3 separate regions of the Homo sapiens genome follow, and all the other regions are linked to region 3. Evidence: fine-mapped expression QTL. A gene starts in region 3. Each other region holds a variant in brackets. All regions are shown on one strand. Distances are from middle to middle.

Region 1 (2,765 bases), 24 kb before region 3:
GCTGCGCCCGCAGCAGCCATTCTGGAACTCCCGTCCTCGTGAGAGGCAGAAGGCCCCAAGGGCCACCCACTGCTGGGGCTATTGTGTCACCTCAGCCTCAGGCTCCCCCAGCCTAGCCCTCCCAGGACAAGAGATGGAAACGCGGCGTATTAGGGACTGAAGTCTAGAGAGTGGGCTGCATCGCACCAGCTCCGCGTGGCCCCTCAGAACAAACCTGCCTCCGGCCGCCACGCCACTGCAGTTCTGGACCCAAGGCTGGGACCTTCTCAAGGCTGAGGCTGTGGTTTGTGAATCCCCAGTAAGGCCCCCGGGGCTGAGAGGGTGGCAGCTGTACCTCCTGACCTCCCGACCTCCTGCCTCCCCACGCCCCATGGCCCCACCTCCGCCTTGCCCATCTTGGCGGCCAGCTGCAGCGGCGTGAGGCCATCGTTGTTGCGAGTGGTCTCCAGCTCCCAGTTGCCACTCCGCAGTAGGATCATGTCGTACATGCGCTTCACAAAGTCATTCTGCGTCTTGAAGTCCTCGGCCACGGTCACCAGGGCGTGAAGGATGTTGTTGCCTCGTGAGTCCCGCGAGGTGATGTCCGTCTGCTCGTGCTCCATCAGCAGCTGCACAATCTCGGGCTGGTTGGTGCATGCTGCCAGGGCCAGGGGCGTCTCACCTGGGGGATGAGCGCACTGAAGCTTGGTTCTCTCATGGGCCGGAAGCAGCGTCCCCCAAGCCCCAGGACTGGGGCCCATATCCTATCTCAGCAGGATGGGCACCTCAGGTTCCCTAGCCCTCTCCCCATCTTCCGCTTCTACGGGGAAGAGTGAAGCTAGATCACTGCGGTAGCCTCCTAACTGGCCTCCCTGCCTCCACCCTGGCCCTTTAATACTCTGCTCAGCACAGCAGCCAGACCAACCTGTTAGTGCCTCCCCCAGAATGAAAGCACAGGTTCCAATGACAGCCCACAAAGCCCTGCATACTCTGACCTCCTCTCTCCATCACTCACTCCCTCCTGCTACAACGGCCTTTTTCCACCTCCTCCAACACGCCGCCTGGGGGCCTTCGCTCGGCTGTCCCCTCTGCCTGTAGATAGCCCAGTCACTTTCTCCCTCACCTCCTTCAAGTCCTTGCTCAAATGTCACCTTTCAGTGAGCCACCCTAACCACTCTATTTAAAATTAAAATCCACCCTCCTCTTGTCCCAGACAGAACTCTTGGTTCCTTGTCCTCTGCTTTACTTTTTTTTTTTTTTTTGAGA[T/C]GGAGTCCTACTCTGTCGCCAGGCTGGAGTGCAGTGGTGCGATCTCGCCTCACTGCAACCTCTGCCTCCCGGGTTCAAGCTATTCTCCTGCCTCAGCCTCCTGAGTAGCTGGGACTACAGGCGCCCGCCACCACGCCCGGCTAATTTTTGTATTTTTAGTAGTGATGGGGTTTCCCCATGTTGGCCAGGATGGTCTTGAACTCCTGACCTCGTGATCCACCTGCCTTGGCCTCCCAAAGTGCTGGGATTACAGATGTGAGTCACTGCACTCGGTCTACTTTGTATTTTTTAAGAGCACTTATCATTTCATATCATAGTATATAAAATTCTTATTTATAGTGCTTATTACCGATGGTCTCTCCCTGTCTAGAATGTAAGTTCCATGAGGGCAAGGATCTCTATTTTGTTCACTGATACATTTCAAGTACCTAGAACAGTGCCTGATGTAGACAGTAAGTGCTCAATAAATGCTTGTTAAGAAAAAATAAGGCAAGTGACTCACATGAGGTCACACAGCAAGCCTGGGACACGACCAGCTCCGGACACCAGGTCTTCAGCTGCCTCCCCTCTCCTCGCCCCACCCAACAAATGCTTCCCAACACCAGGTCCAACCAGCTCCTATGCAGGGCAATGGGGACACACGATGAACTGGACAAGACCCCGTTTTCCAGGACACCCACACCTGGACACGCAGGGCTGCCCAGAGCACAGACTAGCTAGTCCTGCTGATTAAAAAACCACCCAGAAGATAGTCCCAGCTACTCAGGAGGCTGCAGCATGAGAATCGCTTGAACCCAGGAGGCAGAGGCTGCAGTGAGCCAGATGGCACCACTGCACTCCAGCAGCCTGGGCAACAGAGTGAGACTCCATTAAAAAAATAAAAATAAAAAAAATAACACCCAGAAGAGAAAACAGATGGGTGATCATCAGTCAGGCAAGACTGGGTGGCAGGAGGGGTCTCCTCTGCAACAAAGTTACACAGAGAAATTTTTGTGTGTGACGGAGCCATTTGTTCCCTGTTCTGACTGCAGTGGTGGTGAACCAACTCGACGCACTGTGAAAATGAACAGAACTGTCCTCTAACACGGGTGACTTTCACTATATCTAAATTATGCATTTCAATTTTTTTTTTTTTTCCTAGAGCATCCTAACCCCAATTGCTTCTGGACTCTGTGACTTGTGAGGCAGGGGAGTTCTGCCCTCTCACTCTCGACTCCCTGTCTGCAGTCCTGAGATGCACTGGGCCCTGGCACAGAGGTCAGAGCTGGAGGCCAGGACACCTAAGTCAATGCCCTGCTACCCTGGGGCAAGTCCTTTCCCTTCACAGAGCCATCTCCTCGCCTGTAAAATGGGGCTGCCTCCTCAGCCTCCCTCCCAGGTCTCTGTTCCCTCAGAGAGCTACCCAGGACAATGCTTCTAAGACCACCAGGTGACACCACCGGAACATGGACTCCTCCCCCAACACCTCCTCCCAGCCCCTCCTTCTCTGGTCCACCCTGGTGTCCTGCTCAGATGGACAT
Region 2 (2,747 bases), 45 kb before region 3:
GTGAGATGACAAACATCCCTATGGCTCTCCATTCCCCACTTGGACAAAAGCTGGCAGGTTAGGCAAATAGAAATCAATAATTGGCTTTATCCATTAACATCCGAGTCAAAGCAACTCTGGATACGGCTTTATCCATAACAGATACGGCTTTATCCATTAATGGATATGACTTTCTCCATTAATATCTGAGTCAAAGCAATTCTGGAATTCCCAGCTCCATAGTGTGGAGCTTGGCATCATGAATCCAAACCACTTCCTTTCAGACCAAGATGTCTGTTCAGGCTTAATGCGGGTAGCTAACTCCAGATGTGGAATGCTGATTTGTACAATCTCCAGGCTAAAAGGGACCTTAAACTTCTTCCAATGACCATTTTCAACAACATTCCTCATTAAGTGCGCAACCAGCTTCTGCTTAAACATCTCCAACATCTGGAGCAGTTGCTGGATTCTGTTGAGCCAAAATCTTTCTCAATTTCCTAATTCTGCCCATTCTGAAACACATCTGCTCCTCCTGCCTCTAGGACAGTTCTCCTCAAATCTTCTCTTCTCCAGAGGCCCATGCCCAGCCCCGACCACTGTGGCTTAGAGCACGCGATTACTCCCTGGGTCAGCTGGGAGGGCAGGGGCTGCTGTGGATTGTGAAGCCTCACACACCCCAGCCCACCTCTCCCCAATCGGCCCCATCAGGGGCACAAAGTCTCTATCTGTCCAGCTAGTCTGGCACACAGAGTGGCCCAGGGCAGAGAAACTGGCCCAGAGTGCACTGCTAGGCCCCGACTCTTCAGTTTGCCTCAAGCCAGATGAACTTATCTATCGCCATGTTATCTGAAGGCCAAATTTCTATTTCTGCCATTTAAGATTAACATTTATGGTTACTATTTTTATAATTCCACCTCGAACATTTTTACATGAATCCTTTCACCAGATAACGGCGGCAGAGTGGATTTTCTGGTGGTTTCGGCCCCAGTCACCTGGAAAATCCTTCCGTCTCCACTTCACCTCTGCCCCCCAGACTGACTCCGTGTCATTTCAGAAAGAGAACATCAGAGGACGAGGACCTAAAAATAAGCTCAAAGTCTTGGCAAATGCTTTTCTCTCACAAGCTTCCCCTTCAGCTTCAAAATTCACAGTTAAAATTAAAAAAAAAATACTTCGTACCAAAGCAGTTGAGGCATTTTGTTAAATTCCCCCACTGAGACATACTGAGGTATGCGACTAACTGCTGAGTTCCAAGATGATATCGATCGAGCAGCTGCTATTTCTGCTTCAGCGAAAGCCACGATCCCAGCACACAGGCACGCGCTACTGTGAGGTCAGGACGAGGAAAAGAGCCAGG[A/C]CCTTTCACCCAGATCGCGGCGGCCCAGCAGGACTTGCCCGGAGTGTCTCATGCAGACTTTTGTGTGTGTGAAGAAAAGCTTTTTGTCTTGCTCTGGGCACCCTGAGGCCAAATATATAATACTTACATCCAGCCCCAAAGCCCCCAGTCTGTCTCCACTTTTAAAATCACAAACTTCATTGTAGTAATTTTCATTCTCAACTGAAATGTCTTTTCCGTATTGCAAGTTAAAACCCTGTGTTAATTCTGCTACTAAAAACATCTCTCAGCTTGAGACAGTTTGAACCTTGGGGTGTCAGGGGACGTTCACTCCAAGGATGGTCTCCTTTTCCCCGAAGGGTTCCGGAAGGGTGTTTCCAGAGCGCATTCCCCTCCTCCCCCAGGATATCCAGCTTACCTCCGTCCCCCGCACACTCTGGGATGGGATCACGGGTCTCCCACAAATTCAGGCAACCCAGTCACAGCAGAAGAGATGGTACAATGTGTGGGCTGGGGTTGGGGCTGACGGGGGAAGCTGGCAGGAGGAAAGACTCCTCTCCCTGCTCCTCAAGACTGCTGCCCCTTTCCCGCCATCCATCTCTCCCAGCCAAGCCGACCTGCAATTGGTAAAACCAGAGGCTTCACCCGGGACTTCAGGAGGCTCCCAGGCTCCAGACTGCTGCTGGCTGTAGGTTTACACCAGCTGTTTGCCAAGTAACAAAATCCAGGATGTTTCCCACTCAGACAAATTGACAACTGCCCCTCAGTTCAGACACCCACTGAGCACTGAGCACGAGGGTGCACTCTGCTTCTAGGCCAGCAGAGCCGGACTCCACCATCCCTCAAAGCCTCTCTGCACAGAGTCGGTGACTCCGCCTGCAGCGCCAGACAGCGCACGCGCACACCAGCTCTGGGTTCCGCTTCTACACCGAGGTTTCCGGGAATTCCTCGACTTCTTCAAATGCATTGAGAGTGGTTTTGCTGTTGTTCCTGGAAGAATCTTGGATTTTGTTGAAATCTGCTTTTTAAAAAAATATATATTTTAGAAATATATCACTCTGCATAGTGTGTTTCTTTTTTCTTTTTCTTTTTTTTCTTTTTTGAGATGGAGTTTCCCTCTTGTCACCCAGGCTGCAGTGCAGTGGTGTGATCTCAGCTCACTGCAACCTCCACCTCCCAGGTTCAAGCAATTCTCCTGACTCAGCCTCTCGAGTAGCTGGGATTATAGGCACCTGCCACCACGTTCGGCTAATTTTTGTATCTTTAGTAGAGACAAGGTGTCACCATGTTGGCCAGGCTGGTCTCAAACTCCTGACCTCAGGTGATTCACCCGACTCGTCCTCCCAAAGTGCTGGGATTACAGGCACGAGCCACCGCGCCCGGCCTGCATGATGTGTTTCTATGGCTTAGGGCTACGCCATTTTAAAAGTTG
Region 3 (2,732 bases):
GCAACCTTGAGGCCAGGCAGGTGGAGTAGCCCACAGAGAGGGACTCCTGGGCACCCGGCCCTCCCGTGTCCAGTCACGGCCTGATGAGGATGGGCAGCCTCTATGGCTTTCCCCATCCCCACGTGGCCTTTGGTGGACTAAAAGGCTGGGATGCACCGAGCGTGAAGGAGACAGAAGAAGGGCACGTCTCTTGCCCCTCCCAGGGCCTCTGGTTTCCTTTCTGAGAAGTGGGCTGAATGGTCCCCAAGGACTCTGTGGCCCTGAGAGCTGGTTGCTCTCTCTCTTCTCTGGGCCCGAGAATGTGGCCTGCCCTGGGCCTCTGGGGCAGGAGAGGCTCAGGGAACTCTGGACTAGGGCCGCAGCAGCTATCATTAGCTCCCTGAGTCACCCCGTAAACCCCACGTTCTCACCTGCTGGACTCTCTTGTTGCCCTGGCCCTCCCTCTCTCTCCCAATCCCTGACACTGATTGAAATGGCCTTTCCCGGGCGACAGACCAGGCCGCGGAGCCACAGCTGCTGACTCAGCACCTGTGAGATGCCTGGGCCCCGTCTGTCTCCCACGGTGGGGCCACCTCCTCCCATCCTGAACTCCCATCACAATCCTGCCCCAGAAAGCCACCTCCCTGGGTCAGCCTCGGGAGGCAGGAGCCTCTCCTCTGCCCCCAGCAGTGGTGAGATTGAGATGTCCCTCCCCAGGATTCCCAAACCTCAGGGGAATGTTCCTGAGTCTGTAAGGACCTATATTCTCACACATCCCTACAGCCAAGAGTGCAGCCAAGAGTGCCTCCCTACAGCCAAGAGTGGGCCCCTGGCTGGGGCCCAAGCTCCTTCCAACCCTCCTCCCAAGGCCTATTGGCCAAGGGCAGACATGGCCCAGAGGACCTCTGAGGGCCACGCTCTGGGCTCCCCAGGGGCCTTGGAGATCACCAGCTGCCTTGTGCACAGAAGACTCACCTGGTGAGGTTCTGGGTGGTCGTGGCAACCCTTGCCCTGAGATCACCGCATGTCTGGGGCCCAAGGCCCCCGGGTGGGACTGTGGCTGAGGCGGCGGGAAGCTCTCATTGCAGGCAGAGGGATGGCTGGAATGAGGCGTCAGAGGCAGAACTGGCTGAGCCACCTGCCCTCGGCGCCAGGCAGGCCACGCCCACCAGCCACAGCTGCAGCACCCGCCCACCCACGTGGCCCGTGTGAGTCACCCCCACACCCACACAGCAGCCTCATCCCCACCGGAGAAAAGGCAGGGGAGGCCGCAGGTGCCAAGATCGAAGTTGTGGGTCCAACTCCTCCCTCTCTGGCATTCCATGCTGGGCAGGGACTGCCCATCTCAGGCCTATTTTTCCAACTAGGAAATGGGAATGATAACATCTACTTTCCAAGGGAGCCGTGAAGAGCCAAAGAGATCACAGAGGTGGGAGGGCCTAGTGAAGAGTCAAGCGCTCTGCTCTGTCCCCTGGGAGGGAAGACCGCAGCCCAGGCCTAGCCTGGTTGACCTCAGGGTGGCCAGCCCCAAGACTCGGCACTTGTTCTCAAAAGTCGGTTCCTGGGATCAGGTCTCTCGGGGACGGAAGTCCCCATTTAATGCTGTCCACCAGCAGTCACGCATCATGGCCCTTAGTGTCAGCCTCACCCCTTCCTGGCTGAATGACCTTAGCAGGTCATTTCTCCGAGCCTCAGTCTCCTCATCTGTGAAACGTGCTTCATAAACCCACTTTGCAAGGTTATCGTGGGGCTTCAACAAGTACAAGTAGAAAGGGCCAGAACAAGGCCCAGGGCACGGCAAGAACTCAATAAACAATGTCAGCTCTTAGCTATGATTGCTTTTGTCATCTCAATGTATTCTCCCAGCAACTGCCCAGGTTGCCCTTCTCCAAGGCCAGGGCGTCATAGAAGGAATCGGTGCCCTCTCTCCTGGCCCAGGCTGCAGCTGTGAAGTGGGTGGAGTGAGTCAGGATGGCCGTGTGTGTCTCGCGTCACTCAGGAACTGCACACCTGCTCCCCGGGGCGAGATGTGGACAAGACACAGCTGGGACAGAGCAGGAAGTCTCTGCTGACGCGGCCGCAGCTGGCGCCTGATGGGCAGGGAAATCCCCAGCTGTGAGCCTCTCAATCCCTCATCATCACAACCTGCCTGGCCTGGGGAGGAGGCAGGAGGCAGGTGAGGCTTCTAGGCCACGGGAGAGCAGGACCTATGGCCGGTAAGGGGCAGACCAGACTTGAGGGTGTGGGTGAAGCAGGAGACCGCTTCTGCCGTTGAAGTCAGGGGGTCCTGAAGTTCCCACTCACAATCTGAAATCTCATGACTGTGCCTGAAACTCGACCGGAAAAGCCCGATCTGGGGTTGAGCACGGCCTCCGGCCACTAGCTTACTCACCCTCTCCCGACCCAGCCCCGCGCCCTCCCTGTTTGCCTCTGGCGGCTCAGACGCCTGGGGAGGAAGCTGCTGCCAAATGTCAGTGCTTCCATTTTGCTCGTGTTCATAACTTTTCTCAGAGGGCAGGTGGGAGCTGGTGAAAAAGGCCCCTGTCTCCCACCCAGAGGTGTGCCCTGTGCCCAGCAAGGAAGAAGGGGACCCCCGCTCTGCTATGAGAGGCAGCAGGAGCCAGGTCACCCAGTGGAGTCACAGTCACTACTTAGGAAGCCCGAGCCCATCCTAATCCCACCCCAAACACACAGAAGCAGCAGCTTCAGCCCCTTAGATGGTCTATATTCAACCCCATTTAACCCAGCACATG

What was found. PIP is the estimated chance that this variant, and not a neighbour inherited with it, causes the effect.
Region 1: its variant is fine-mapped to the expression of TRPV3 in whole blood (TOPMed, PIP above 0.99).
Region 2: its variant is fine-mapped to the expression of TRPV3 in adrenal gland (GTEx, PIP above 0.99).

Annotation. Positions count from the first base shown.
Region 1 is chr17:3,532,277-3,535,041 of GRCh38, forward strand. It overlaps TRPV3 (transient receptor potential cation channel subfamily V member 3), which reads right to left. Exons shown (of 18, transcript NM_145068.4): 8 at 381-661. Among named protein-coding and RNA genes, the nearest start is that of TRPV3, 24 kb to the right of the region's middle. The variant T/C (reference allele first, on the strand shown) is at 1,246.
Region 2 is chr17:3,511,679-3,514,425 of GRCh38, forward strand. It overlaps TRPV3 (transient receptor potential cation channel subfamily V member 3), which reads right to left. Exons shown (of 18, transcript NM_145068.4): 18 at 1-2,333. The coding sequence ends at 2,239. It also overlaps a transcript of SPATA22 not described here. Among named protein-coding and RNA genes, the nearest start is that of ASPA, 37 kb to the left of the region's middle. The variant A/C (reference allele first, on the strand shown) is at 1,337.
Region 3 is chr17:3,556,722-3,559,453 of GRCh38, forward strand. It overlaps TRPV3 (transient receptor potential cation channel subfamily V member 3), which reads right to left and starts at 1,091. Exons shown (of 18, transcript NM_145068.4): 1 at 955-1,091. RefSeq lists a silencer at 50-109 and enhancers at 1,291-2,107, 1,750-1,809, 1,890-1,939, 1,970-2,199, 2,108-2,732 and 2 more.